Regions from separate parts of the Homo sapiens genome. Here region 1 is linked to region 2. The links come from fine-mapping of genetic effects on gene expression. Tissue or cell type: lymphoblastoid cells. Region 2 holds a variant in brackets; the other region holds the start of a gene. All regions are shown on one strand. Distances are between the middles of the regions.

What was found. PIP is the estimated chance that this variant, and not a neighbour inherited with it, causes the effect.
Region 1: LOXL2 starts here. The variant in region 2 is fine-mapped to the expression of LOXL2 in lymphoblastoid cells (GTEx, PIP 0.95).

Annotation. Positions count from the first base shown.
Region 1 is chr8:23,402,861-23,405,619 of GRCh38, forward strand. It overlaps LOXL2 (lysyl oxidase like 2), which reads right to left and starts at 1,260. Exons shown (of 14, transcript NM_002318.3): 1 at 1,094-1,260.
Region 2 is chr8:23,432,933-23,435,691 of GRCh38, forward strand. It overlaps ENTPD4 (ectonucleoside triphosphate diphosphohydrolase 4), which reads right to left. Exons shown (of 13, transcript NM_004901.5): 11 at 2,460-2,545; 12 at 1,385-1,546; 13 at 1-222. Among named protein-coding and RNA genes, the nearest start is that of ENTPD4, 23 kb to the right of the region's middle. The variant AACAG/A (reference allele first, on the strand shown) is at 1,130.

The sequences.
Region 1 (2,759 bases), 30 kb before region 2:
CATGCACATCTCTCCCCTCATCAGGACTTGGGGTTTCCTAACCATATTGAGTAGTTCAGCCCCCTCCCTCGCCGTGTTCTGCGGTGTTCTCTTCCTCACACCCTCGCCCCGCTCCGCCCCGCACTCCGGCTGTTTTTTGATGGTCTTAGCTCGGGCACGGAGAGGAGGGAACCTCGCTTGTTCTCCCAATCATCTCTATTCCAGCGCTGATTCCTGGGACACCTCGAGCAGGCAGCCACACCCAGAGGGCTTCCAAATTTGGGCTGGTGAGAAGGGGCGCGGTGGGCAAAGCGCCTGCGTAAAAGTTGTAGGCACTTCAGACCACCGGACCAACGGCTCAAGATTGGGATCAGCTGTAGCCGTGGGTTCGCTCGTGCCCGTTCTTTCCAACTCCAGGGCTTCTAGGTGATGAAGGCGGGAGAGGGTCCCTGGTCCCCGGAGAGGCAGGGCGACTTGGGAGTGCATACCTGGCGTGCCGAGAGCGCCTCTGCTCCCGCAGGACTCACGGCGCTCCCGCGCTCCCAACAGCCTTTCGAGCAGGCTGGGGGTTGAACCGGGTTCAAGCAGTGGACGCTACAGCTCCCGGGCGCAGCCCCCGGGGTCCCCGCCCCCACTCCGTCCCAGCCCAGCACGCTCTACATCCCCAAAACCACAGCCCCGAGGGCAGTCACTGTCTCCCGACCCGTCCCCCGCGTGCCCCACTCCTCAAAGCCAGAATTCCGGAGACGCTGTCCCTGGAGCCACGCTGCACTCTCCAAGACGCCCAGCACACACCGAGACTTGACGGGCTCTGTCCCGCCTGATTACGGGCGCTCGGGACGATCCAGGGACCCAGCGCCTCGCTCCCCGGGCGCGCCAGCAGCCGCGCCGCGCCCGGCCCGTACGAGGTGGGGTTGGGCGGGGCCGCCCGGGGCGGCAGGAGGACCCGTTAGCCTGCACGTCCTCGCATCGCTCCCCGCAAGAAGTCTTTGGGAACCCCCAGGCACTGTCGAGAGGCAGCCCCGCGCAGGACGAAGCCTGGAGACCCCATAGGGACGCTCCCGCTTTCTCGCGAACCGCTTCGGGGAGGGGGTGGCGCGGGAAGCGCTCTTACTTGGTTTCAGGGATCCGCAGTGGCCGGGCTGGGACCGCGCTCTCCACGGTGGTCCCCCTCCGCTTCCGCCGCCGCTGAGCCCCTTTCTCGAGCAGAGGGGGCGGCTCTGGTCTCCGATGGCTGGAGAAAGCAAGCACCAAGCGTAGGTAGCCGCGCGCTGGAGTCGCGCGTTTACTCTTTTCCCCCTTACTTTTAACTAGAGGAGGATGGCAAACCCCTCCCCGGACCCACCCCCTTCCCCGAAGGCGGCCGCCGCAGCAGGCCCGGCCTCCGGCCTCTTTTGTTGTAATTCGAGAGCGGCCACTCCCAGGGCCAGAGGGAGCTCCGCGGGGGAGGCCAAGGCCTGCGGGGCAGCCCTTCCCAGGCTCCTCGCGCCCGGGTTTCCGGAGCCTGAGATGCCGGGAAGGGGGCCTTTCCTCGGGAGATTCCTCTACCCTTTCCTCCCTGCAGCCGTCCCAGAATTTAACCCTTCGATGTCCTTATCCACCAGCCTTAGGGCCCGTGCCTTGTCCACCTCCTATCCCGAAAACCCTGGCCCTCCTTGGCACATAATACACGCTCAATTAAAGCTGCCGAATGAAAGTGTTCAGAAACTTGCACCCATCTCGCCTGGGTTTCACCTCCCTTTTCCTGTAGGGGGAAAACCGATCCTGAACCAGTAAATAAACAGCCCCCTTTCGGCCAGCAGATCACGTCTATGGCCTTGGCCAAGCCTCTTCTCCGAGGACTAGTTTTCTTCTTTGTAAATTCAACGCTTTGGATTCCGTGACCTCTGGGGTCCTTCCTGGAATGGTAGGGCTGGGATTAACAAGCCCTGTGCTTGGGGACTGAACAGGACACAGCTAATGCGTGGCCATTGTGCAGAAGGACCTCCTGTGCCTGGCTCTGAGGCTCCGGGTGGGGGATGGGCATGCTGGGAGAGCCCTCTGCACAGAGAGGGCTCCTTAAGCAAGAGCAGGGCTTTGCCAGTCCCAAGGAGGCAGCGAGCTGCAAAACAAGGGACCCCTGTGCAGAAGTAGACTGTCACCTGAAAGGCGGCTCCTTCCTCAGTCCTCTCTTACTCCACTCCCTGAGGAGACAAACCCCTCCCAAATCTCACCTCCAGCCCAGGCTTCTCTCCTAAGCCATGGATATTTAAATCCATTGGCCCCGAAAGACTTTCACCTGGACATTCCCATGGCCGTAGCTAACCTGGCAAGCCCCAAACTTGGCACTGCAACTCACGGTCCACCTTGACTCCTGTGAGCTCTCCCAGGCAGATATGGGGTCTTCTCCGTTGCCTCCTCCTTACCCTCCCCACTGATCAGTCCCTGACTCTGGTGGGCAGTAGAGGGCAAGGGTCAGAGGAAGGGGGTGTAGTTATCAAAGGCAGGAGGAGGGATCTTTGTGGTGGTGGAACTATTCAGTGTCTTGAGATACAGAAAACCACACAGGTGATAAAATTGTATAGAACGTAATACACCCAATAAAATTTCAATTAAAAATTTAAAAAAATCCTCCGTGGCTCCAAGGTCCTCAAAATGTAATCTGAATCCTGGCTGGGTGCGGTGGCTCATGCCTGTAATCCCAGCACTTTGGGAGGCCGAGGCAGGCGGATCACAAGGTCAGGAGATCGAGACCATCCTGGCTAACATGGTGAAACCCCGTCTCTACTAAAAATACAAAA
Region 2 (2,759 bases):
GTCCCCGGGGCATTCTGGGCGGGAAGGCCCTCCTCCATCCAGAGGGCGGCGGCCGAGCTGCTCCGGGGAGTGCGCCTGTGGATGCGCCGCAGCCGCAGCAGGTACAGCAGGATGGCCAGCAGCACCACCAGGAAGCAGCCAGAGAACAGGTAGTGGTTGTAGACAAAGGAAACGCCCCGCCAGTGGGTGTGACTGGCTCGGAAGGCCTCCTGCTGGATGTCTCTGCCCATGTGAACACCAAACAACAAACAGGACAGTAAGCAAGGAAAGGGGTGGAAAGGGTGCACAGGGGGACGGCGGGACCCAGGCCCCAGAGCTGCACTTTAGGAACTGCAACCCTACCTCTGAAATGGAGAACGGAACAGCCCAATGCAGGGGGCTTCTAAGTATCAGTGAGATAACATGTGAAAGTATACTCTGAAGTCGGTCATTATAATTTGGGCAACCAAAATCAGAGGAATTTAGAAGAGCCGTGAAGGTTTCGCTGATACAAAGAAGTCAACATGTAAACAAACTGCATGCTTGTGATCAGTAACACCCATGACTCACCATTTTTACAGTTAACCCAGTTAAAAGGGTTGCTGAGAAATGCTCAATTAAATGGAGGGGGTGGGGGGAAGAGCAAATGTCTCATCTATCAGGTAACTCAGGTTCTTAGCACAGGTCAACTGACAGCAGATCTGCAAACGTGAATGGGGAAAAACGCACATCTTTGTTCTACCCAAGCGCTGACTGAGATGTAGCATTTCTTTGACCATGAATGCAGACAACAAACTATCATTAGCGTTGGCAGCACCTGCAACTTTGTTACTAACGAAAATCACAGATCTTTCATGTCCCATTATGGTATCATCAATGCCTCAAAATATCATTGACGCTCATTGACTACACTGAAATTACAGAAAGTGCTAATTCTGCTGCCAGATCCTGTTATTTAATGTGTTAATAGAGAAGAACACATATTACAGTATCACAAACTTGTTTTCTGTAATATTTTGGTATTATTTCAATATGATGGTTTCTTCTGTAATCCTATGTATTTATACATGCATTTAAACAGTATTTGGAGAAGAGGCCTGAGTCATAAAGGTTAAGAACCCCGGAACTGACCCTTTTGCCGGGGCTGGGG[AACAG/A]ACAGTTGAGAATAACCAAACACAGGGCAGTAGGACAGGAGTGCTGTGTATTACGGGATGGTAGGGTGAGAAGGGAGGAAGCACTTGTGGGGAGGGGGCAAGACCAAAAGCAAACGTCACTGTCCCTACAATTCTGCCGTGGCCGGCTCTAACAGCAATGCCCCAAACAGCCACAGACCACAGCTGCCATGAGGTGCTGTAACTGCAGAAAAGCATCTTTTTGATTCTCGTTCCCAAATTCACAGCCCTACCTTAATGGTAGAAAGCGGGTCCTGTAGAGGATGGCTCCAAGGGTCCACTGAACCTCCTTGTCGTAAACTTGCAAGGCAGTCTTTAAGCTTTTATAGTTGACAGGAAACGAAAAGCCCCTATGAAACACCTCAAACATCCAGGCCGATTTGAAGCACTGATACCTACAAACGGCAAGCACAAAGGCAAGTCAGACTGACTCACTCTGTCAAGATGGCACACACACACACACACACACAATCCTTCCCTCTGTGGGCAGCCTTGGGGCAGGGGCTTCCTCAGGCCGGCTCTCCCAAACCAACTGCGCGCGTTTCAAGGTTGATGTACTTGCTTCACATCCCTGGTCCCACAACATGGAGCAGTTCACCTGTCAAATCAATCAGTGCATGAACCCGGTCTCGGCATAATGTCATATATCCCTGAGATAGGTTTCTTTTCCAGCTGGCATTTCACCATGTACTCCTTGAATGAATACTGAACAGGTTCCAACCTCTTTGTACCTCAGTTTATTATAAAATGAGATGGTAGGAAGGTTCTCTTCAGCTCTGATATTCTATGACTCTAAATATTTATTAGAGGTTTATTTTTTGCCAAGCACTGTGCTAAGCAAGTAATAAGATACAATAATTAGTAAGATACAGTGTCTGCACTTAAGTGACTTACAATGAAAGGGGATTTTTAAAAAGCAACAGAAAAAGCAGAACATGATAAATGCATTGGCGAGGTAGGATGAATTCTTGAGACTCAGAGAAAGGGATGAAGTCTGATTGAGGGGACAGAGGAAGACTGGAAAGGGACAGCCTCTGGCTGGACTCTGATGTCTGGGCAGGACTTGAACAAGCAAAGGTATGAACAGGGGAATTTCAGGGGTAAGAGACAGTAAAAGTGACCAAAACAAAAAAGATACGGAATATGTCTGGGCACAAGTATTTGTCCCGTTTGAAAGGGGCCCAGGGTAGATGGGAAGAACAGTGAGTGAGAAGAAGCTGGACTGAGGCCAGGGTGTGGCAAGCCAGTGGGGCCAACACTGCATTATGGTTCTTAAGAGTGCCCTGGGCTTGACCTTCTAGTACTTACTTAAGCCTGTGGAGGTCAGCATGAGAGGCGTACAGTCCTCGGTCAAAGCGTTCCCGCAAAATGGACCACTTTGTTGCACAATAATCCTGAAAACAAATTCACCAAAATAGATCACTAGTAAAGGCTTATTAAAATTCTCACTTTAAAAATGGTTTACCAAATTTATATTTGTAACAAGCATATCCTTCCCATTAGGAAACACACAAGCTTAACTTATACAACAAATGGCAAGACACACAAACACTCAGGGAATACTTACTGATTCGCAAACACAATGCCTTGCCTTAAAATTCTGTCCAG